3 separate regions of the Homo sapiens genome follow, and all the other regions are linked to region 1. The links come from fine-mapping of genetic effects on gene expression. A gene starts in region 1. Each other region holds a variant in brackets. All regions are shown on one strand. Distances are between the middles of the regions.

Region 1 (8,183 bases):
ATTATAAATCATTCACATGCACGTTTATTGCACCACTATTCACAACAGCAAAGACTTGGACCCAACCCAAATGCCCATCAGTGATAGAATGGATAAAGAAAATGTGGCACATATATACCATGGAATAGTATGCAGCCATAAAAAAGGATGAGTTCATGTCCTTTGTAGTGACATGGATGATGCTGAAAGCCATCATTCTCAGCAAACTAACACAGGAACAGAAAACCAAACACCGCATGTTCTCAGTCATAAGTGGGAGTTGAACAATGAGAACACATGGACACAGGGAGGAGAACATCACATGCCGGGGCCTGTTGGGGGTGGGGAGGGGAGGGAGTGGGGAGGGGAGGGATAGCATTAGGAGACATACCTAATGTAGGTGATGGGTTGATGGGTGCAGCAAACCACCATGGCACATTTATACCTATGTAACAAACCTGCACATTCTGCACATGTATCCCAGAACTTAAAGTACAATGAAAAAAAATTATCCTTCCAGTAATGGTTATGGCTTTACACTGAACCAATCAAATTCTCTTACAGAGCCTAAGCTGTGATTACTCAAATTTGAGGGAGCAATGACCAGGATCTTTTTTTCCTTTCTGAATATTCTTGAAGGATTTTGAAATAGAATTGTTCCTTGTGGAGAGGCAGATTCTTTGGTCTTATTAGCACTACACAATAAGTAAGTGATTCAGTGGATAGAAAGAAGAAATGTGTTTATCAACTAAAACTAGCCAAATCCAGAATGATTATGAAAAGATTCCAAAGTAGGTGCTGAAAGAGGTCTTCAAGGACTGAAACTGGTCAAGTCTGAAGGTTATTCCAGTGGAAAATGGTAGTACATTAGAAGGCCAGAAGTTGGGGACAATAGAAGTAGCTAAATTGGGCTGAACCCTAGACTTCTGTTCTGACCAAGGAAATGAATTAAGGAAGTGTGAATTCTGGGTTTCTACTACTGCCCTCTAGGAACCACTGGTCTTTGGGAATTGCCAGTAGAATTAAGCAGGGGTGCCTTCTTTCGTCCAGATGTGTAAATGTCCATGTAAAGGTTTCTTCTCTTATGCAGGAAGTTGCTAGTGTTAATTACACCTTTTATCTTCATGGTGTTATCTCGATTCCTTGCAGACATAGTGTCGTAAAATACAGTAAAAATGCAATACTAGAAAATTGAAATTAAAAAGACAAGCTCTGAGTTTTATTATTAGATATAACAAAATTACTTTATCAAATTGCTATAAAGTTTCTAAATCCTTCCTCTCAATGTCTGACTCATTGCAGACAGGTAACAGGTTGCACTTCGAGTGGTTTGCTTCATACTAGCTGTGCTTTTCAAACTTTATGAAATGCTCATCCAGGGTTCTTGTATAAGTGCAATTCTTACTTAGTGGGCTTGGGCAGGCCTGAGATTATTTCTGACAAGCTCCCAAGTGACACTGATGCTGCTGGTCTGTGGCCCACACTTCATAAACGCTTTGATTTTCACAGTAACACTGATGTGACACCAATGCTGCTGGTGTGTGGCCCATACTTCATAACTATTCATAAACTGTTTTGATGTTCACACTGATCTTTTGAGAATTTTTATTCCATTTTACTCATGCTTAAGTCAGATTTATTGATATCCCAGAGTAAATTAACCCATGTTAGTGTGCAGTTCTGCTGGCACACACATGCAGTTGTGTAACCACTACCACCAAAAGCAAGATGTAAAATAGCTCCATCACCCCCACAAGCCTTCTGATGCTCTTTTGTCATCAATTCCCTTCCCGCTAGTCACAACTGGTAACTACTGATTTGTTTTCTGTCCCTATAGTTTTGCCTTTTCCAGAATGTCATTGTTGACAGGTATCAGTAATTCATTCCTTTTTATTGCTAATTACTATCTCACTGTATGAATGCAACACAGGTTGTTTACCAGTTCACCCGTTAAAGAACATTTTGTTTCTGCGCTTGACAGTTATGAATAGAACTGCTATAAACCCTCAAGTAAAAGTTTTGGTGTGAAGATAATTTTCTCAGCAAAAACGCTGACAGGTAATTTTTCTAAGTATTACTTTTTTAAAAAAGTAAAATAGCCTGTAGCCCCAGCTACTCAGGAGGCTGAGGCAGGAGAATAGCTTGAACCCAGGAGGCGGAGGTTGCAGTGAGTTGAGATTGTGCCACTGCATTCCAGCCTGGGCGACAGAGCTAGACTGTCTCAAAGAAAAAAAAAAAAAAAAAAGAAATAAATAAAAAGTAAAATGAAAGCATGTAAGTGTAAGATGACTAGTTCAAGCAACCTCTCTTCAAGTACAGAGTATTCAGAGTAGAGATTAAAAGAGGTTTTCAAGGACAGAGAAAATTTGAAGTTTGAAGGCAGTTCCAAAGGAAGGCAATGATTCTTAATAAGACTGGAAGTTGGAAGTAATATAAAAAGATAAATCAGTTTCAAGATGATTTTACTAAGCAGGCAGCCCTTAATTTACAAATTCTAGATTCATACATATCTTAAACATACAAAATGATATGAGGAGAGGTAAGTTCAGGGTCTGAGTTCCTGGCTGTTGTTGGAACTGATTTCTGTGTAGTGATTCAGAAGATGTGAGACACCCTAATTTACAAGTACAGAGGTATCTTCTTTTCTGCAAACAGCAGTACAACAATAGTTCCTCTTACGCAGCTGTGAATGAACAGGATTATTACAATTAATGATATCTCATTTGATTGGCGCCTTAGAGAATTAAGACCTTTCACACCTAATATACAACTTTGTTGTGAAGGCAGATATTTATATTCTCATTTTACTGATGAGAGACTACCCGGAGACGCTATGTCACACCTGAAGGATTAGGTACTTTCTCTGTTAAGTCCAATGTTCCTTCCGTTATTCCATGCTAGGCAGTAATAAGTTCTGTCTTGCCTGAGTAATAAGCTCCAAACCTCGGAACTGCACCCATCTTGAGAAGGAGGAGGGCGCTGTGGTTTTTTCTGATAAGTGCAGCTGGCAGACACTCTATACGCTTAATCACGGGCAAATCCTAGCTAAGCTGCCTACCAAACTAGTCCTTCTTTTCCCCGTTGCCCACGCAGATGGCTGTTGATCTTTTCTGCAACAAATCCAGGAGTTTCTCCTTTTTGTTTTATAATTGCTCCAATAGATGCTTTAGGATTTAACTCTCTGCTTTTTAAAGCAGAATCGCCATCCCAGGTGTGCAACCACGAAAAAATTAGACATCCGTGAGAGACAATGCCCTCCATGGCCCAGTTTCCAGGCAGAGAGAAGCAGCTCTGGGCTGACCGCCAAGGCTCCGGCCCGAGAGGGTCTTTAAGTGGAGTAACCAGTCTTCAAGACCCCGCTCCCAAGCCACCGACGCGCTGACGCTGCAGCCCTGGACCTGCTGGGGGCCTCTTCCTCGGACCCGCATGCTGACAGCGGGACTGGCAACTGGGCAGAGGTCGACCCCGGGTCCGCACAGCACCTCCCGAGACCCAGCTCCCAGCTCCCTCACTTCCGGCTCTCTGGAGGCGGGCCCGGCCAGTGCCGCCGAGGCCAGCGCGGCGAGCTCCTCCCCAGCAGCGGCGGGACGGCCACACCCTGCGCTCCGCGCGGGCTCGGGTGGGGTCTCCGCTCCTGCGCCCTGCGCCCTGCGCGCCGCAGCCGCAACCCCGACGGCGCCCCAAACGCTGTTGCGCCGCGCGCCCCGCCCAGCCCGGCCTCGCGCTGGTCCCGGTCTCGCCCCGCAGCCCTCGATCTCCCGTGACTTCCTCGGCCAGGCCGCCTGCGCCTCTGGGACCATGTTGCGCTGGCTGCGGGACTTCGTGCTGCCCACCGCGGCCTGCCAGGACGCGGAGCAGCCGACGCGCTACGAGACCCTCTTCCAGGCACTGGACCGCAATGGGGACGGAGTGGTGGACATCGGCGAGCTGCAGGAGGGGCTCAGGAACCTGGGCATCCCTCTGGGCCAGGACGCCGAGGAGGTGGGTCGCCGCCGGGGCGCCGCCTGAGCGTAGGGAGGGCTGCGGGCGCTGGGGACACTGCGAGGACCGAGGAGGGCGGCGGCTTGAGGCGTTGCCAGGAGAGGAAGGAGGAACTGTGGCGCCCAGCGCTCCGGTGGCTTCAGAAACTCGGGCGTGGGGCCGCGACCGGCGACCCCGGTAACAGAAGTGGGTCATAATACGAAAGTCTACTGGTATTTGTCCAGATAAAATGAGTGTTGTGGACACTCTGGCCCACGGGCACTGTTAAATTTTTAAGACACTTTTGTCCTGAATCCATCCCAGGTTCTTTGTTTTCTGTTTTAATACCTTGCAGACATGTAATCCGTTTTAGCTGTCAGACTTCAGTGGGTCCCAAGTTTTGTATAAAGGCGCACACATTCGATCTCTTTCGAAGCTGCTTTGTTACAGCAGCTATGTGTATTGTCTACTGTTTGAAAACTGTTTGAAAACCAATCGCGTGTTTCCCCCACTTCCTGTTGAGAAGGAATGGCGGCATTCCATTGTTTAAGACATTCCTAGGTTAATGCCCTAGGTACATAAATTGATCTGAAGGGTTGACTTGACCTGCGACTGAGCAATTTCATTTTCTCTGAGTCATCTTAACTGTGCCCCTGAACTTCTGCCCCTTTAGTAGGGTGGAGATATGTGGAACTTCTCCAACCCTGTTGAAGCGTTCCCTGACACTGGCATTCTCTTATCCAAAGAGGGAAAGTGATTAGGTTACTATGAGGGCCAACAACTGTTATATAGTTATATTTCACTTCTCTTTTAATGTCTTTGGTAGTTATAGGCCTCTTCAGTTTACTGTTTCTTCTAGAGTCAGATTTAGTAAGTTACAATTTTTTTTGAAACTGCCTGTTCTGTCCAAGGTTCATAATACTCACCGATGATTTTATAACACTTCTGACTGAATCTGTAGGTAGGTTCTCTATTTCATTCCTCATATCTATCCTTTTCTCCCCTTCAATCTTGCCAAAGTTTTGTGTATTTTATTCATACTTTGAAGGAACCAACTTTTGGTACTTTGTGCTGATTGTCCCAGAAATGGCCCAGTTGGAGTTCCCCACCATGTCCAATCATTGGCTGGAAGCAGCCCAGGAAAGGGACGACCTTGCTGCAGTGCATCAGCAGATGCCAGGGTTAGAGGCTAGAGAGTGGAAGTCAACTGTGTTCCTCACAGTAGGTGCCTTTGAAGGGAGATCTCAGTGGTACAACTCCATGGTCCCTACAATATACAAAAGCTCTTTGGAGTGCTCAATGATTTTTAAGATTGTAAAGGGATCCTGAGATCAAAAAGCTTGAGAATTGCTGCTGTATCACCATTTTTACGTAACTGCATCATATTCTGTTATATGTTTGTGTCATAGTATATGTTACCAATTCTTTTTAAATCACCTTTTACTTTATTGATAGTTTAAAAACGATTGTAAGTGAAATTGCAATGGATGTCCTTTGTATTCATTTTCTCATTCTGGTCCAGTTACTTTCGTAAGATAAATTTTGAGGAGTGGACATTGCTGAGTCTGAAGGTAACACACATTTTAAACTGGGATACGTATTGCCTTTCGGAAACCTTAGACCCATTTTCACTCTTTTGACTGACAGTGCTTGCTTCTCCACATCCTCGCTCATTCAGGGTATCAGTCTTTGTAAAGTCTCCTATTCTGCAGGTGAAATTCCTTTTCATTTCCTGTCTTAGTCCATTTAGTGTTGCTATAGTGGAATATCTGAGACAGGGTAATTTATAAAGAAAAGACATTTATTTAGCTCACAGTTCCGCAGGCTGGGAAGTTTAAGAAGCGTGGTGCTGGCATCTGCTGGACTCCTGGGGAGGGCTTTCCTGCTGTGTCACAACATGGTGGAAAGTCAAAGTGGAAGTGGACATGTGTGAAGAAGCAAAATCCGAGGGGTGTCCTGGCTTTATAGCAACCCAGCCTCGAGGGAACTGATCCATTACTGAGGGAACTAATTCAGTCTCATGAGAGAGAGAACTCACTCACTACTGCAAGAATGACACCAAGCCATTCATGAGGGATCTGCCTCCGTAACCCTGACACCTCCTGCTAGGTCCCTCCTCCCAACACGGCCACATCAGGGATCAGACTTCAACATGAGTTTTTGTGGGGACAAACAAAACGTAGCACTTGCTTTGCCTTTTGGTTCTATTCACATCCTCCACAGGATTGCATTATGCCTACCCATTTGGTGAGGGCAGTCTTCTTTAATTGGTTTACTGATTCAAATGCTACCCTCCTCCAGAGACATCCTCACAGACACACCCAGAAATCATGTTTTACCAGTTATCTGGGCATCCCTTAGTCCAGACGAGTTGATACATAAAATTAACCATCACACATGGGATAGAATTAGGATTACACAGTCAACCTTTATGGGAGAAAATTTCAGAGGCATGTCAGGGGTTTATGTAATGTCAAGGAGTGAGGACATTGGCTACTTGAGCATAGAAATGAGAACTGTGGGGTGACTCTTCGGTGGAAAGTTTCAAGGTAGTAGTTTGTATCTAAGCCAAATACTCAGCTTGAAGCAAAATCTCTATAAATTTTCATCTGATTTGATCTCATCTCCGTGTTTCCAAGCATTTGTAATGAATTGAGCATTTAGAAGAGAACAAATTTCTGTTTAAGTTTCTTTAGATTTTAGATGGAAAGAATGTAGAAATAAGAGTAGAATGTAGAAATAGGTATAAGGAATATAATAGCTAACCATTACTAAGTGTTCCAGAATTATCCAGGGAAGAGAAAAGAATTCAAGGCAAGTCCTGAGACAAAATTAAGAACCAATTGGAAGTGAAAGCGCTACATTTTTTTTTCTGGTATGACCTTTCTTTTCTGTATGTTCCAAATCTCCTCACTATGAAATTAGTGAAAAATTAAAGTTAAAAATTAGAGAAAATTCACATTAAGTTCTCCTAGGACTCAGTAGTATAAGGGTATAGACTGAGAGTAGAATGTAGTGTGAGAACAAGGAGATACAGTATTTAACCATTACTAATTCTCTTATACTTGTCTAGTAATCCTATTTCCTTTTAAAAGTCTTCAGTTATTTTCTCTTTACGCACCTCCTTCTCCCTCTTGTCTTCCTCCTTCTACCCCCATCTTCTTTCTTCCTGTGGAGCCTTCATGAATGGGATTAGTGCTTGTATAAAAGTGACCTGGAAGACCTTCCTTGCCCCTTCCACCATGTGAGGACACAGTGAGAAAACAGTGGTCCATGGAACCGGAAAGTGGGTCCTCACTAGACAGTAAATCTCCTAGCACTTCGATCTAGGACTTCCAGTGTCTGGAACTGCAAGAAATCAATGCTTATTTTTTAAGTAAGCCAATAGTATTTTTGTCATAGCAGCCCAGTTGGACTAGGACAATTATCAAGAGCAAGAAGGGAAGCAGCAAGCTACAAGAGAGTTCCGTCCTTGGTGTAAATTGACCGTGTAATCCTTGTCAAGTTTGAGCCTTACTGGAGCTTTACTTTCTTATTCTTAAAATGCAGATATCTTGCCTGCATCCTGGACAGAGCTTTTAACAAGGTCATATGTTGCAGAATATGAAAGTTCATGTTAAAAAACCCTTTAAAATGTGGTATCCCATTTACTAGCTGGTGAACTTCTTGAGGAACCTCTGTGCCCATGGGTATGAAGTGTATGCTGAATGATCACCCAATGTTAGAGGAGTGGGTGGACTGGTAACCTGATTTAAGGGCCATTCTAACTCTTACATTCTATGATTTTTTTAATTCTGTCTTTAAGTTTTTACATTTACAATCACAGAAAAAATAGTCACATAGAAGAATAGTAGCTTAGCAAATGTTTATTGCATTGAGTGGAATCAGGATTTCACTCCATTAAGTAATTCCTCTGTTAACAAAGAGGGTTCATTTCATTTTTATTTCATTAATATTGCTTTTTTTTTTTTTTTCTGGAGACAGAATCTTGCTCTATCACCAAGGCTGGAGTGCAGTGGTGCGATCTCGGCTCACTGCAGCCTCTGCTTCCTGGATTCAAGCGATTCTTGTGCCTCAGCCTCCCAAGCAGCTGAGATTACAGGCACATGCCACCACACCTGGTTAACTTTTGTATTTTCTAGTAGAGATGGGATTTTGCCATTTTGGTCAGGCTGGTCTTGAATTCCTGGCCTCTAGTGATCTGCCTGCCTCTGCCTCTGAAAGTGCTAAGATTACAGGCATGA
Region 2 (8,183 bases), 34 kb before region 1:
GTAGCACCGCAGACTCTTTTTTATGCAAGGATTGTTAGAATTTATCCATCAGTTCAGTCTCCTATACAAATTTCTCTAACCATTCGTTGACCATGATATATGATGAGATAAATCAGTATTGCAACAACACTTCTGGAGAGTGGTTAGGGCAATTTTTGAAAATCTTGGGGAAAAAGTTTTGTTTAATTGTTTGCACAGACTTAGGTCAGAGGATAGGTGATTATGATCTACCAGATGAGGGAGATTTTGTCCTATGGGTCTGGAAAGCAGGCACATCTACTTCTGAAAATAAGTCAGAATGATCCTGTCAAAATGTCACATTCTTACACTGAGGATATTTATGTTCTTGTGCTATGACTGGACACTTATTTGCTCTTGTGTGATTTCCTTACTGTGACCTGCTCTTCTGAATTTGTTTACAGAAAATCAAAATGACCATGAGGAGGAGGAGGGGAAAGCGCCAGTGCCCCCCAGGTAACTGTGGATTTGTGGGCTGTTAGTTCAATAGTGACATCTGGACACCACGGATCAAGGGAAAATAGGAAGTGACGAATAGAACTGTCTCATCCATTCATCCAAGTGCAAATTGCCCCTTTAACAATGTTGTCTTCTTTATTGTGGTACTTGAATAGGTTTCAATTTCTTAATCCCTCTCAAGCATAGGAACCGACAATCACTTGAACCAGGTGAACTGACCAACCTCAGGGATTTCCTGATCTCACCTGTGGTCTCCCATGTGGCTAATCCAGGGTGAGATGCATATATGCTTTCTGTATGTTTTGTGACAGCATGTTGGCAAGTATTTGAATGCAATCGAGAAAATTAAAAATAAAAATTTCATATTATGTCAAAATATTGAAAAAAAAGGGGGACCTTAAAAACACAGGATCTGTGCGTTGGGAATGCCTCAAGAGCTGTGTTCACTTGGATGCTGCATGTAATGTCAACGCAATTTGTGTAAAGGAAGTGAAGTCCCAGCTTAGTTCTCAGTGCTGCAAGTCATGATGCTTGATGCTAGCTTACAGGGAGAGTCTGGGTCCTCCTGCAGCCGCTCGTTTGTGGCAAGTGCACTGAGCACCTGCTGCTCATGTTTGCTCTGTCTCCAGGACAGTCACACTCCACCCCACATTTAGAAGGATAGATTTTTCTCTCTTGGAGGAGACCCTCCTTTGCTTTCTGTGACCACACCCTTTGTGTCCTATCAAATCACCTGAGATACTATGGTGTTGAATCTGTCTTGGTCTAACCTTCTGTCGTTCTATCCTACCTGGCTCATCAGAAAGCTGCAGGATTCTGAAGAGAAGGGAGTCCTGCAGGACTTGCCAGAGAAATGTGTTTTGTCTCATTCTAGACACCATGACAAGTCCAACTCTTACCGGCATCGTGAAGTCTCTTTCTTGGCATTGGATGAACAGAAAGTTTGCTCCGCTCAGGATGTTGCCAGGGATTACTCCAATCCCAAATGGGATGAAACCTCACTTGGCTTCCTCGGTAGGCTCCCTATTGTTTGTACCCCAGATTTGTCCATAGTGACGGATGTCATACCTTCAGGAAGACTCTATGCTTATATACTGGTTAGAACCAGGCTCTAGGATTGAGTTTGAAGGAAGGCATCCTATAAGTCAGAGTTGTGCTCCATTCTAGTCCAAAACCACACATTGTCTTTCATCATTGCCCCATTGGCAGATCACTGTACCCAAGGTTGACCTGACAAATTCATACCCACCTCTGCAGCCTGGGTGCAGGGTGTATCTACCAGTCCTCCTGATTTAGATTTAATCTGTCATCTCACATGAAATCTAATTTTCCCTCCCAAACAACCTGAGTTTCTCTGCCTGTCCAAGGCCACTGGCAGCCTTATCGATATTCTTGGAGCTGTCATTTCCCTCGTTCACTTCTCTCAGGCTAGACTCCCTCCCCTTTTAGTAGGCTTGTCTTAGCTAAGAAGTCTCTGAGTACCAGAACATGAACACCACTATTAAATTTTGTATGTTTCTCTGAAAGGAGGCCGGGCCCTGGAACTCCCTGCCATATGAAAGGCCAATGTTTCCATGTAGCATTAGAGATTCTTTTGATTTAATCTGTCCCTCTAAATGCAAATTCTACAAAAACACTGACAACAGCTTATCAGAAGGAAACATGCTGAATACTGCAGTAACCTGCTAAGAAGCATTAAAGTAGATCCCCAGGATCTGTTAGTAAACAGGATATGGTTAACAGTTTGCTGTGACTCAAGACAGAAGGGACTGTGATGATGACCTGTCAGATCAGGGAGATTTGCTCCATGACTCAGGAAAGCAAACCTAGTGACTTCTCACAAGGCTCACCCTGAGACCTCCTGGAAAGTTTCTCTCACAATAGCCTGTTCTCGCACTGCGTGTATTTATGCCCCTATGTAGATTTGGACACAAGGTTGTGCATGTGTGAATGTGATCAGGTTCACCTGGCTGGTCTTCTCTTAATTTATTTACAGAAAAGCAAAGTGATCTTGAAGAGGTGAAAGGACAAGAAACAGTTGCTCCCAGGTAATTGAGAAAAATCAGGGGCTGTCTATTCAGGGGTGATATCTGTGAAACTCATCTCCACAGAAAACCAGAAAGTCCTGAATATACCTAATTCATCCCTTCAGCCAACCGGAAATGATCTTTTTTAACCATGTTTTACATTTTCATTGTGAAACTTTTAATGTTTGCATTTCTTATTAACTTCTTAAGTTCAGTACATCAAACCACTTGACCTTGTGAACAACTAATCAGTCACACAGATTTCCTTAAAGTAAGTATACTCTTCTTATGGTGTCAACCAGCCTGAGATGCATATCTGCTTTCTGCTGGTTTTGCATTAGCACAGTGGTGAGCATTTCAAGGCAAGGAAATTAGGTAGAAAAAAATTATTGTTATACCATGCACAATATTGAGAGAAAGAGGACTTGATGCCATGCGATTTCGGGGATACGATTATGCCTCAAAACCTATGTTTACTTGGCCACTACACATAAAATTTAACATCATTTAAAAGAAAGGAATGAAACCACTGTTATAGGACATGATATTCAGTAAGTCACGACTCTACCATACAGAGAGACTCAGTCTCCTTCCTCAGAAAATCATAATCTGGCTACTTTGCTGAGCACCTGATGCTTCTCTCTCTCTCATCTCTCTCTTTCCCTCTCTCTGTATTGCAACCTACCCATGGCAACCACACTGTGCCCACCAAGAAGAGGAGAATATTTAACTGTTTAATGGGTTGACCCATTTGTTTTCTGCGATCACTCCCTCATGCCTCACGTGAAATCCAGCTAGGGCTCTGAAACTCCTTGGATTAATCTTTAGTCCTTCTTACCCTACAGGCTCAGCAGGGGACCGCTGAGAGTGGACAAGCATGAAATCCCCCAGGAGTCACTGGATGGATGTTGCTTGACTCCTTCCATCCTTCCTGACCTGACTCCCTCCTACCACCCTTATTGGAGCACTTTGTACTCTTTTGAAGACAAGCAAGTCAGCTTGGCTCTTGTAGACAGTGAGTACTCCATTGTGAACATGATAAATCTCCAATTGGTGTCCCAGGTAGACTCCGTAATCCTTGCACTTCACATCCCTGGCTGGACTGAGATGTGTCATTGGTGTGGGCGTGACTCACAGACACAGGATGATTTGCATCAGCATCAAAAATCAAGTTGGAAGCACAGACAGGGGTGGGTCAGTGAGCTTTGCTCTCTTCCTCATCTCAGACCATGCCTGTGTCACCCTGCGCCCACTGTCACGACATTGACAAATTCACACCAACCTATGCAGCACGTGCCCAACAGGTGTCTGTCAGGCCTCTTAATCTGAATAAGATTTGTCTTGCCAGCTATCGTGTTCCTTACAAGTTCCTTTCCCCAACCATGTCCTGTGAGATTCTATGCCTGCCCAACGCCTGTGGCATTTTTGTCTACTTTTC[A/G]TTAAAGATATTACCCAGGTTTCAAAGAACCTAGCCTCATTCTCTATGTCTTTGATGTTATCCTGTTTTAGCTGAGCAGTCCATTACCTTTTGTTATGTTTCTAGAAACAAGATTGGGCCTTGTCACTCCTAGATGTCACGAATAGCCAATGTCTCTTTGTATTGAACCAAAGATTCATTTTCATTCAAGGGTCTGTAGATTCCCTCCTACATTCTAGTTTCAGTGTCTAAAATCCTTGTAACCATGAACAACGTGAGTATTTGATGATTGAAAGCTGAATATTGCAGTTTTCCTTCTAGAAAGCAGCTGGGGTATTTGCCTTCAACTGGTGTGAAAAATTTGCATAACTGTTTGCACAAAATCAGGACAGATGATGTTGGGATAATGATCTACCAGAACAGGGAGATTGCATTCCTAGGCCCAGGGAAGAAAACCAAGGCATCTCTCTCATGACAGGACCTCAGGCCTCCTGGAATATTTCTCTCACAGTGTCCTGTTCTCCCACTGAGGAAACTGACATTTCTATGTTAGGATTGCACAGTGGATTGTTTATGTGTGTAGGAGAACCTGCTTAATCTGTCTGTCCCTTTGTGAATTTATTTACAGAAATTAAAAAGGATCAAGAGGAGATAGAAGACCAAAGCCCACCATGCCCCAGGTAACTCTGAGGAATCCTGAACAGTTAATTCAGTGTTGATATCTGGAGTCTCAGATGCAGGGAAAATCAGAGTGTGCTGAATATACCTGTTCCATCTGTTCAGCCAACCATGAAATGCCATATTCATAAGGTTGACTCTTTTCATTGTACACCTGTATTTCTAGTTCCTCCTTATTAATTCCTTTCAATTCGTCTAATCTGCATTCAGTTGACTCTGTTGAACTGATCACTCACAGACATTTTCTGCAGTCCCCTTTTCTGTCCTTTTTGCTTAAAGTGAAGTTGAGTTGCACATCTGATGTCTGCCTCTTTGGCATTACCATGTTTGCAAGTATTCGATAGCAGGGAAGTGAATGAAAATAAATCATGCCATGCTACAATGTTGAGAACAAGAGCTGTTGAGGATACAGGAACTCTGTGAAGACTCAAGAGCCTGTATTCATTTGGCCACTGACGCTAATTTCAACAAAATGGATGCAAAAGTGCCGAATGCACTGTGTCCTGGCAGTTCCCCGCAGGGATCACTCCATCTGCTTCCTCCCCAGCTCATTGCCTGCCCAGTGCACTGAGAGCCTGTCGTGCTCTGTCTCCTACTCGAGACAGGGAAGGATGGTTGTATCTCTCTCAGGGGAATGTACTTTGCTTCCTCTGGGCCTTCCTAAGGGCCTCCCTATAGAACCAGCTGGGTGTTGGTTCTCTCTGGTGTTTATCTTCTGTCTTCTTTACCCCAGGCTCAGCCAGGAGCTGCCAGAGGTGAAGGAGCAGGAAGTCCCAGAGGACTCTGTGAATGAAGTTTACTTGACTCCCTCAGTTCACCATGACGTGTCTGACTGCCACCAGCCTTATAGCAGCACCTTGTCCTCATTGGAGGATCAGCTTGCCTGCTCTGCTCTGGATGTAGCCTGTGAGTACTTCACCCTGGAGATCACAAAGCTCCACTGTCCTCCCAGGCAGCCTCTGTATGTTTTGTTTCCTGCAACTTGTGCAGCTGAGACAGACCATCTCTGCAGCAGGCTCTATACACTGAGCTTGTTTTGAATCTGGCTCTTGGATCCAGTTTTAAGCACAGACATCCACTGGGTAGAACTTCCTCTTCTCCTGTTCCAAGTGCCTCCTCTGTCACCTGGCTCCTTCTCACAGGAGCAGGCTTTGGCTATCAAAACAGGCCAGAGAAGGGAGTGGTGAGGGCTTATGGCAAATTCCTGGCCACAGTAGCTCAGCTGGAGAAATTTATGTAACAGCCCTCCTTCTTTAAGATAGGGCATCTCTCTTTTCTGAAATTATCTTGCTAATTCCATGTCTTTATCTCTTCTCTGGCCATCCACATATGTTGGGAGTTTTGCCCAATTATTTGGAGGCCTGTTTCATGATTCCTGTGTCCCAAGCTAGATTCTCTTCTTCAGGGATCCCCAGCCCTGGGGCCATGGGCCATTATGGGTCCATGACCTGTTAGGAACTGGGCCGCAGAGCAGGAGGTGAGCGGTGGGAGAGCATTTCAGCCTGGATCCCACCTCCTGTCAGATCAGCAGTGGCATTAGATTCTCACAGGAGCTCGAACTCTATTGTGAATTGTGCATGCCAGCAATCTAGATTGTGTTTTCCTTACGAGAATCTAATGCCTGATGATCTGTCACTGTCTCCCAGTAACTGTCACCCCCAGGTGAGACCATCTAGTTGCAAGAAAACAATCTTAGGGCTCCCACTGATTCTGCATTATGGTGAGTTGTATAATTATTTCATTATATATTCCAATATAATGTTTATAGAAATGAAGTGCACAGTAAATGGAATGTGCTTGAATCATCCCAAAACCATCCCCCCCAACCTGGTGCCTGAAAAATGGTCTTCCATGAAACCAGTCCCGGGTGCCAAAAAGATTTGGGACTGCGGCTCTACTTCCTCTGAGGTGTCTTCCCTCCACTGACGCAGTCCAGCGACCCTTCCTTTATGTGTGGCCGGGCTTGCATCCTCTGCAGAGCTCCAGTGGTTTTCTCCATGTGTGGGTTTGTAGTGTCAATCAAGTTTTGGTCTCAGTGCTCTATTCTCATGAAAACCATCGACAACTAGTGTCCCTCATGAGGCTCTGGCCTAACCGATGAGCAAAGCAGAGTGGTTCCTGTCCCCATGAGGTCCAGAAAACCCTTCCTCTGAGCAATCGCCCCTTGAGATAGCAGCTTCACAGGATGTGTAAAAAGAAAATCCAATTTTCATTTCTTCTTGCTCATTCTCTTTTTTTTTTACTTCAATTCTGGGAATTTCATGTGGATTGTTGGGGGTTTTACCCATTACATTATCTTCTAGTAAGAGCAAGGAACTCTGTGATGTCCCCCAGTATATTGGATTATGTTGTAACGAGATTAGCAAAAATGCCAGGTGTGTTGATTCATGCCTGTAATTCCAGCACTTTGGGAGGCTAAGGAGGTGGATCGCATGAGCTCAGGAGTTTGAGACCAGTGTGGGTAACATGGTGAAACCGTATCTGTAAAAAAAAATTAGCAGAGTATGGGGGTACACACCTGTAGTCCCAGCTTTTTGGGAGGCTGAGGTGGAAGGATCACCTGAGCCTGGTTAGTTGAGGCTGCAGTGAGCCATGATTGCACCACTGCACTCCAGCCTGAGCAACAAAGTGAGACCCTGTGTCACACACACACAAAGAAAGAAACTAGCAACAAAAATGTTGGCCTCTATTCTATTTTGGTAAGTGCCTTTCATACTGGGACCAGCCCCTTTCCCATTTTGCATTTCTCCCTGAGTTTCAAAAAAGCAAATGCTTTTCTAGCATCACAGTGATTCATGAAACAATTAGGATACACACTGACCTTGCAAGTGCCTTTCATACTGGGACCAGCCCCTTTCCCATTTTGCATTTCTCCCTGAGTTTCAAAAAAGCAAATGCTTTTCTAGCATCACAGTGATTCATGAAACAATTAGAATACACACTGACCTTGCACCTGCTGTATGCCCTGCCCCTTTGCAAGCAAGCTCTGTCCTGCTATAAACCATTCAGGGATCAAGGGACACGCCCAAGTGGGCAGTGGCATCTCCATGTTGGAGCTGAGAACAATGAGGCATTTTTAAGAAAACTTAGAAAACCTTGGAGAGAATGAAGATGTGGAGAGGGGAGGAGAGAGAGGAGCCCCACAGCAACGTGGATCCAGTCTGCAGGCCCCGTCCCCATCTTGAGACCGACCTGGACTGGCGTGAGGTCATTGGAAGTCTTTTCTTAGTCCACTCAGAACGTGTATTCCTCTCCCTGTGGAAATGGAAACAATTTGTTTAAGGGGTGCCACCCGAACCCCACTGGAGGAGTGGGTAATGTGAGGATCGTGTCCTGTGTTGCCTTCCTAAGGAACCGCACATGCTGATCTGTAGCACTTGTGGCCCCTGAATTTGCAGGAAGGGACTGGTCCCTCTCCTACATTGCCTATGTCTGCTGACACCCACTATATGGCAAGAGGATGGATATGTGTGGGTAGGGGGTCAAACCATTATAGTCAATGGGAAATTCAAAATGTCCCCGAACCCAGAAAAGTTTGCCTCACTTAGCGTTTGGTCTGTAGCATCCCAGCCCCCTTTTTCGTG
Region 3 (8,183 bases), 45 kb after region 1:
CTTACGGTATTTTTTAAGGTAGTTGATAACAGTTGAGACTACAATTGTATCTCCATTTTATTGATAGTAAAATGAAGGAAGGGAGGGTTACTACCATAGGAGAGCTCCTCCCCGTTGCACTCTTGCCTGTAAAAATTTTTCTGCCAAAACAATTTAGATAATAGAATTGTAAAAATATTATTATAGAATTGTTTCTCTCAAACTATAGTAATGTAGAATAGGTTGAAGGGGTGATGATTTGAAACAATACCTCTCCATTAGCTAAATTTTATATAGAATCTATTGCATGTTTTAAATGATAAGTCAGATTTATAAAAATATTTTTATAAACAGTAGGAAATGAGTTTAGGGGTATTCACATACAGTTTTAATTTTTATTTACATATTTAAAACATATCATGGTATAAATATGATGTGGATATAAATTTGAGATAAAGGAAGTATTGTTTAAGAATTGATGAACGAATTTCTTAAAAGATGTCATCACCAGTTGGTTTTCTAGCCTTATGAAAAATGGTTGCAATAAAAAAGATTGACTATGATAAAATGCTGCCCTTTCATTTTAACCTAGACCAAGAGAAAACATACTGTGAATCTATGATGAATGAAAGAAAGTTGTAACTGTTGGTTTTGTATATTTGTAATTACTGTTTATTTTCATTTCTTGTGAACTGATACTGTACTTTGTTCATTGTGAGTAGACAACTTATAATCTATGTACTCAAATTGGTTTAGTATAAATTCTAGGGAATGAAGTTCATATTAACTGTAAAATAACATGATTCTTCTCTAAAACAAAACGTCTTCTGGGATTATTTTTAACTAAGGCGCATGGGGATCTTTTTTTCATTTTTACAGGGAATTGACATAGGGGATAGCTTAACTATTCCAGATGAATTCACGGAAGACGAAAAAAAATCCGGACAATGGTGGAGGCAGCTTTTGGCAGGAGGCATTGCTGGTGCTGTCTCTCGAACAAGCACTGCCCCTTTGGACCGTCTGAAAATCATGATGCAGGTGAGCTTTATTATCGTGTGTCCAGGTTTGCCCTAAATATTCTAAAACAATGAGAAATGTGGTGCTTTGAAAAAGAAGTTTTAAAATTTCTCAGTAATAATCTTTTATACCCTAAAAAATAAATCTATTTTGTTGCTGTTAACTCTAAATTCAGTCCATGTAAGTATGGCAGTGTACCAAACCTTAAATTGTTAGTACATGTGTGTAATGAACTTTTAATCTTTGGCATTCTATGACTATTCAAACATTTAATTCAAAAAATATCTCTAGCTATTGTTGTAGGATTCTCCTGATTTATAGTTTCCTTCTTTTTAATATACTTTATCAAAAGTAAAGTATTTTTGAAATCTAGAATCTTAGAGCAGCAATGTAATTTTGAAAATTATTCTAAAGCTGAGGTTAGCAGAAAAAGATCTGGCTTTATAGACTGACTTTGCTATTTACTAGCAGTGTAGCATTGGGCTGGCCAGAGTGGAAAGAGGGAATGGAAAAGAATTAATATGTATTTGCTCACTGTGGTAACCCAGTTAATCCTTGCAGCAGCCCAGTGAAGTAGGTATTTTATCATTTTTCCAGGGGGAATCTGAGGCCCAGAGAATTGACTTTTCCTTTACAACAAATGAGAGGGGGAATGCAGTATCTTTGCCTCCAGTGCTCCTGGTTCTCATGCTGCATGAAACCTCTGAGGTCTCATTTTCCTTCATTCTGGGATGGGGATAAGAATATCTAATAAGAATGGTTTAAGAATCAAGCAATATCAGGTATGTGATAATGTCTGGTACACTGGAATAACCTATTGGAACATAGTAGTTGTTTACAAAATATTTTTAAAACTTTGTTATACTTATGGTCAACACTTTTTATATTTGTCTGTAGATTTCTGTACAAAAAGATTCTGACACTGTTTTAAGCCAGCATTCCTTCAGAATGTACCCAAATCTCAAAATTTATTTAGGGGCAAAGCTAATGCTTTAAAGAAAAAGGAGAGGGGATTGGTGTGTGTTTTTCTTTAGGAACAGTAGTAACTTGACTTTTAGAGAACTTGAATAAGCATTTATTTTTTCCTTTGTCCTATTTTATTGTGAAGTTTATTTATTTAAAATAAAATGGATTTCTCTGGAATTTAGTTTCTGCAAATTTGAGGAGTTTCCAAAGTCAACCTTCAGGTTTGATACTTCTCTAGAAAGACTCACATAACTCACTGAAAGCTTATTACCCCTGGTTATGGTTTATTACGGGGAAAAGATGCGGATGAAAATCAGTCAAGTAAAGAAGCACATAGGGCAGAGCTTCTGTTGTCCTCTCCCTGTGGAGTCTCCATGTCTTACTTTCCTGGCACTGTTATGTGGCACTAGGCATGGAATATTGCAGACCAACCAGGGAAGCTCACCTGAGCCTTTGGTGTGCAGAGTTCTTATTGGGGCCCGTTTTCATACTGGCCACATGGCTGGCCTTCAGAATTCAACCCGTTCTGTGAGTGTGTGTGTGTGTGTGTGTGTGTGTGTGTGTGTTTAGTGGTAGTCACCCCTTTTATGTGAGCTGAAACAATCAGAAGAATAGCTGATTTGTTTAATTATTTTTGGTGTATTGGACTTAATCAGTTTTTATCTGTAGGTGGTCATAAGGTACAGTATTTTTAAGTGACTACCACATCTGTAGTATAAGCCAAGTAATTTATCAGTACTCACAGGATGGGTACATGTTGTAATGAATTTATTGCCTAGAGAGGGCCTCAAAATATGCCAAAGAGGGTGCAATTTTTATTTTTGGTTTCAGGCTGTATGCATTCCAGTGTTGGTAGCCCTGATATACACAATATCCAAACCATTTCAGACCCATTTACAGTTCATGTCTGTACTACTTCTTGAGGAGAGGGAGTAACATATTACTTTAAATTATATGTAATAATATACATACATTAAATTATATGTAATAATATAATATTATTATCTGCAGTATACTTTTTTATTTCCCTTTAACTGAGCCTGTTCATGTTTCAAAGGGTGTTCCATTGCCTGATACATAATTTAGTTAATATTATCTTATGAAGGTTGTTCATAATTTTAATACTCTTCTTGTCTTCTCTCTCTGCTTTCTCACACTGAAGATACCAATTATTCTTAGTTTTAGAGTCAGAGACAGGCCTCTAAAATCATGGCAATACTCCCTCTCATCATTATATATATTTTTCAACCTTTCTATATTTTATTTTCAAATATATCTTCTTGCAGTTAGAAAGGGTATTGAAAAAGATTGTGTGGTTGTTCTAGAAAAAGTAATAGTAATATGCCACCAGCATTTTATATCATTCTGCTTTTATTTTTAGGTTCACGGTTCAAAATCAGACAAAATGAACATATTTGGTGGCTTTCGACAGATGGTAAAAGAAGGAGGTATCCGCTCGCTTTGGAGGGGAAATGGTACAAACGTCATCAAAATTGCTCCTGAGACAGCTGTTAAATTCTGGGCATATGAACAGGTAATTGTTATCACCCGTGGAATTTATTAACAAAGAGGAGTTAGTAAACGGATTCAATAAATGTTAATGTATAATGCTTTTGGGATTCTTGTTTTAATACATGATAATCTTTCACATATACTCCATAAGGAGGATCACTTATAGGAGATTAGACTAAATAAAATCAGAGATTTCTCATGACCAAGTTATGGGATTCTTAATTCATCATATTATTTATAAAGTTTTTTTTTTCTAAGTAGTTCTTAAAGGAAGGGTAGAATTTTAGTTTATTCATTCTGAATCCTGAGCAGAAGCAGCACACTAACATAAGTTTTATGAAAGTGTCACAATCTAACCTCTGGAAGGAAAACTATAAGTTGAAGTCCTTTGTGTAATTTGACGTTGCTGTAAAATTGAGCTGAGTTTGGAGTGACACCTCCATGAAGGCAGGGGCGTGGCTTCTTCCCCATGTACTCCAGCACCTAGACAGAGCTTGGCATGTGATAAGTTTCAAGCGAGTGTTGAATGAGTCAATGAATGAACAAATGCATTTACCTCTGAATCACTTCTCTGTCGGCTTTTGTTAACTTGGATTATTTGAGCTATTGCTTCAGCCTAACTCAATGTAAAGGGGAAATACAGAGGTAAGTTTTAGAGTTTGGGTTCTCTTTATGGTCATTAGCAGAACTGTCTAGTTGAGCAGCCACAGATTATGTTTTCCATTATTTATTCCATCATTGTTTATCAAGGACTGTAAGGGCCTTGAAATTCAACTCCCCCCCCATAGTTTTTGTATTATTCCATGTAGATTTTAGATTATTCTGGAGAGTGTTTTGTTCTTGAGCAAGAGAATACTCTTGAGAAGTTTACGAAGTCCAGTGGTATCCTTTTCTTTGCCTAGGAAATAGAGAAGCAAAAAAAAAAAAAAAA[T/AT]TAAAGAAAATCTAGTCTCCAGGATTTTAATTAGAACCTATCCTTGGGAAGGCTATTTTCCTTATATGAAGGTTTGAAGATTCAAATCATGATTATTAAGGGCTAATGTTTGAGATACCCTTAGGTTATTCTGACCACATACTTGGATTTTATGATAGGAAAGCCACAGCCTAAAATAAATAAATACTCAATGCAGTTATTTCAGTATGCAAGAAGTTTGGTATTTTTGAAAAAGTCCATGGGTATTGCAAGCAAATATGCACATTTTGCTTTATGCCATTTGTCAGATTCTTACCTTGGATACCACCAACAGGCATCCTCTGCTTCTGTCCACCCAAGCTCCTTCCTGAGACCTCTTTATAGTATTGTGATTTCTGCACACTAACTTTCTTAGACATGAAGAGAAAGCTGTCTACACAGTGTGGTGTAGTGTTCTTATGGGCTCTGGACCTATGGTGCTGTTTTCTCTCCTCCTGCTGAAGGTCCATTCATCCCTCGGGGCTCTCTAAAAGCCACCTTCCTGTGACAAGCATATACTAAGCATCTCAATCAAAGCCAGTTCCTCCCCTGTCCAGCCTCCCTCGAGTGCTGAATTGCAGAATATCCCATTTTTCATTGGATGATGGAAAACCCATTGTTTTCCCAGTGGATTGTAAATTACTTCGGGGTAAATAGGCTGTATATATTCTCAAATTTCCCAGAGTATGTAACTAGGTCACTTTTAGATTCAGATAGATTTTGTTCCTTGAATAGCTAGTACTTTAGGAAACTAAGAAAAAGATCTTTTCAACCTGGTATGTAGCTCTGTCAAACACATCATCAGTATGGGGTAAACCTGTGTTCTCTGTGGGTTGTCATTACCATAGTAGTGTCATTGTATCATTGACAGTGTAATAGTGTGGGGTAGTGTTCTTGTGGTTTCAGCTGCCATCTCTGTACTGACTGCTTTCCACTCCAACATCTTCCTCTTTATCTCAACACTGTAGGTCTACCTGTGTACTGTGTGTTTCAGCATCTCTGCTTGCATGACCCAGGAGTGCCTCCCACTCAATATGGCCACCATGCATGGTCATCTTTCTGCTACTCCCTGTCTCCTGACCCTGCTCCAGCAACACAGACAGACACCCTTCCTCTTTCTATATGTCATATGGTGGGAAATGCCCTTTAGTACTTACTCAGGAGTTAGTTCCTCTGGGAAGCCTTCTGTTCTAGTTTCCTTTTGTTACAGCACTTTCACATTGAATTCTGACGTTCTCTGTACTTATCTGCTTTGTGAGACTGTGAGCTTCCTTAGGCAGTAGCTACTTGTATTCTTAGCACCTTGCCCAGTGCCAGGAAACCCTTATTAAGTAAATGAAAAGACAGAACTGACAGACTGGAATTAGAGCTCAAGCTTGCCTCAATCTCAAGCCATTAAGATGAAGGGGAGCCGGGCGTGGTGGCTCACGCCTCTAATCCCAGCACTTTAGGAGGTAGTTTGCTTGAGCCCAGGAGTTCAAGACCAGCCTGGGCAACGTGGCAAAACCCCATTTCTACAAAAAATATAAAAATTAGTTGGGCGTGGGGGTGTGTGCCTGTACTCAGGATGCTGAGGTGGGAGGATCACTTGAGCTCGAGAGGCAGAGGTTGCAGTGAGCTGGGATCACACCATTGCAATCTAGCCTGGGTGATAGAATGAGACCTTGTCTCAAAAAAAAAATAAATAAATAAATAAAGGGGAAGATAAGGATTGGAAACAGAAGGAGCAGCATGTGGACAGAAATGTAGGCACAAGAAGGCATCACTCACTGAAGAGACTGAAGGTGGTTCACTGTGCCTCAAGACTGGTGGAGTGTGTTTCCGGAAAGATAATGATGAAAGAGCTGGACAGATAAACAGGGGCCAAATGTAATAGGAGTCTGGATTTTATTCTGAATATGGTAGGGGCTATTGTAGCATCTTATATAGGGAAGTGAAATGAGTACATTCACATTTAAGGAATATCAACCTGAAAAAAGAGTGGAGACATTGTTGGGGGAGAGTGAGGTAGACTAGAGGCAGGGAGAATATTTAAATAATTGAGGTAAGAAATGATGAACACCAGTATAAGGTGATGTCTTTAAGGAATGGAGAAGGGAATGAACTGAGAAATATTTTGGAAGTAGAATCAACAGAACTCACTGACTGACTGGATATGGAGGTGAGAAAGAGAAGAGTCAAGAATGATATTCTAATTTCTAACTTGAGTGACTGCATTCAAAGAGAATACAATATCAGGTTCCATTTTGTGCATGCTGAGTTTGAGATGTGTGGGACATGTACAGGGAGCTGTCCAGTAAGCAATTGGGTATATCAGCTAGCCATTAAGAGAGAGATCTTTGATAGAGAGGTTGTTGCTGAGTTGAGCCATTGGAATGGGCAGGATCACTCAAGAAGAGCTTATAAATGAGAAGAATTCTAGGAATAAGTCCAAAGGGAGAAGTAAAAGAAGAAACTTGCAAAGGACACTGAGAAGAAATAGCTCGAGGGATGGGAGAAAATCCAGAGAGAGGGATGGCATAGGAGTCAGTGGAAGGAAACGGTTTCATGGGGGTCAGTACTACTGGGTAGTGAATATAATAAGAATATCTTTTAGGATTTCTCAACCCAGAGATAGGTAAGCTTAGTATAAATGCTTCTGTGAAGTAATGAAATGAGAAACCATGCTGAAATGAGCTTAAAGTGAATGGGAGGTGAAGAAACTTGGACAGTAGAGACACATTTTTAGGGAGTTTGACAGTGAAGAGAAGGAAACTAGAAGAGGGAGAGGGTGATAGATAAGAAAGATGTTGGGTGGAGGGGATTTGTTTTTTTGTTTTTTTGTTTTTTTTCTGTTTGTATGTTTGTTTGTTTTTGAGATGGAGTCTCACTTTATCACCCAGGCTGGAGTAAAGTGGTGCAATCTCATCTCACTGCAACCTCTGCCTCCTAGGTTCAAGTGATTCTTCTGCCTCAACCTCCTGAGTAGTTAGGATTACAGGAGTGCACCACAACACCCAGCTAATTTTTGTATTTTTAGTAGAGGTGAGGTTTCACCGTATTGGCCAGGCTGGTTTCAAACTCCTGACCTCAAGTGGTCCTCCTGCCTCAGCCTCCCGAAATGCTGGGATTGCAGGAGTGAGCCACCGTGCCTGGCCTGGAGGGAGGATTTTGATTTGACTTTAATGTGCCTGTTGCTGAAGGAAGCATGTCAATACAAATAAAGAAGTTGAAAACATAGGTAAGAGAGGTTGATTAACCCGGTAGGTGTTTCAAGGGAGTTTGTGTGTAGGGAAAGGGAGTGGGAGATGGAAAGGGGCTGGGGGAGACAGGTTCTATCCAGAGACTGTTAAAAGGATTAGTCTTTGATTACAAGAAGAACTCTTCTTATACGTGTTTGGGAAGAAAAAATATGTGAGTAGCTATGGATAATTTTGCAGGAGGTGGGCAGAATACCAAGATATTCTGCCTGGTGGCCTCTCTACTCTTCCTTGAGCTCCTGAGAAAGGATGTGATCTGAGAATGAGGGAGGAAGTGGTATTGGAAGCTGGAGGAGAATGGAGAAGATCAAAATGGTTAGTCTAACAAATGGGAGAGAACTGAGATAGACAAAAGGATTTCAGGGTGGTTTTGAGGGCTCAGTTAAGTCTCCTTTAGGAAGGTTCAGTTCTGTAGCCTTGGCAAGTTACTTAAAGTCTCTGTGACTATTACCTCATCTCTAAGATGGGGACTAAGCTTGGTGACATAGTTTTACATACCAGGCACAGTGCCTGACTTTTTG

Alleles and levels. Positions count from the first base shown, and alleles are read on the strand shown. Sizes are in standard deviations (SD) of each study's normalised expression. Not every link is listed here.
As copies of AT replace T in region 3, the expression in lymphoblastoid cells of the gene that starts at base 3,573 in region 1 goes up (moderate effect, 0.50 SD a copy in TwinsUK).

What was found. PIP is the estimated chance that this variant, and not a neighbour inherited with it, causes the effect.
Region 2: its variant is fine-mapped to the expression of SLC25A24 in cerebellum (GTEx, PIP 0.98).
Region 3: its variant is fine-mapped to the expression of SLC25A24 in lymphoblastoid cells (TwinsUK, PIP 0.95).

Annotation. Positions count from the first base shown.
Region 1 is chr1:108,195,733-108,203,915 of GRCh38, reverse strand. SLC25A24 (solute carrier family 25 member 24) reads left to right here and starts at 3,573. Exons shown (of 10, transcript NM_013386.5): 1 at 3,573-3,960. The coding sequence starts at 3,778. RefSeq lists an enhancer at 3,355-3,649 and a silencer at 3,450-3,789.
Region 2 is chr1:108,229,578-108,237,760 of GRCh38, reverse strand. NBPF4 (NBPF member 4) reads left to right here. Exons shown (of 15, transcript NM_001143989.3): 7 at 423-474; 8 at 1,352-1,491; 9 at 2,474-2,525; 10 at 3,350-3,519; 11 at 4,550-4,601; 12 at 5,333-5,505. Among named protein-coding and RNA genes, the nearest start is that of NBPF4, 10 kb to the left of the region's middle. The variant A/G (reference allele first, on the strand shown) is at 3,943.
Region 3 is chr1:108,150,296-108,158,478 of GRCh38, reverse strand. It overlaps SLC25A24 (solute carrier family 25 member 24), which reads left to right. Exons shown (of 10, transcript NM_013386.5): 5 at 859-1,017; 6 at 3,344-3,496. Among named protein-coding and RNA genes, the nearest start is that of SLC25A24, 46 kb to the left of the region's middle. The variant T/AT (reference allele first, on the strand shown) is at 4,406.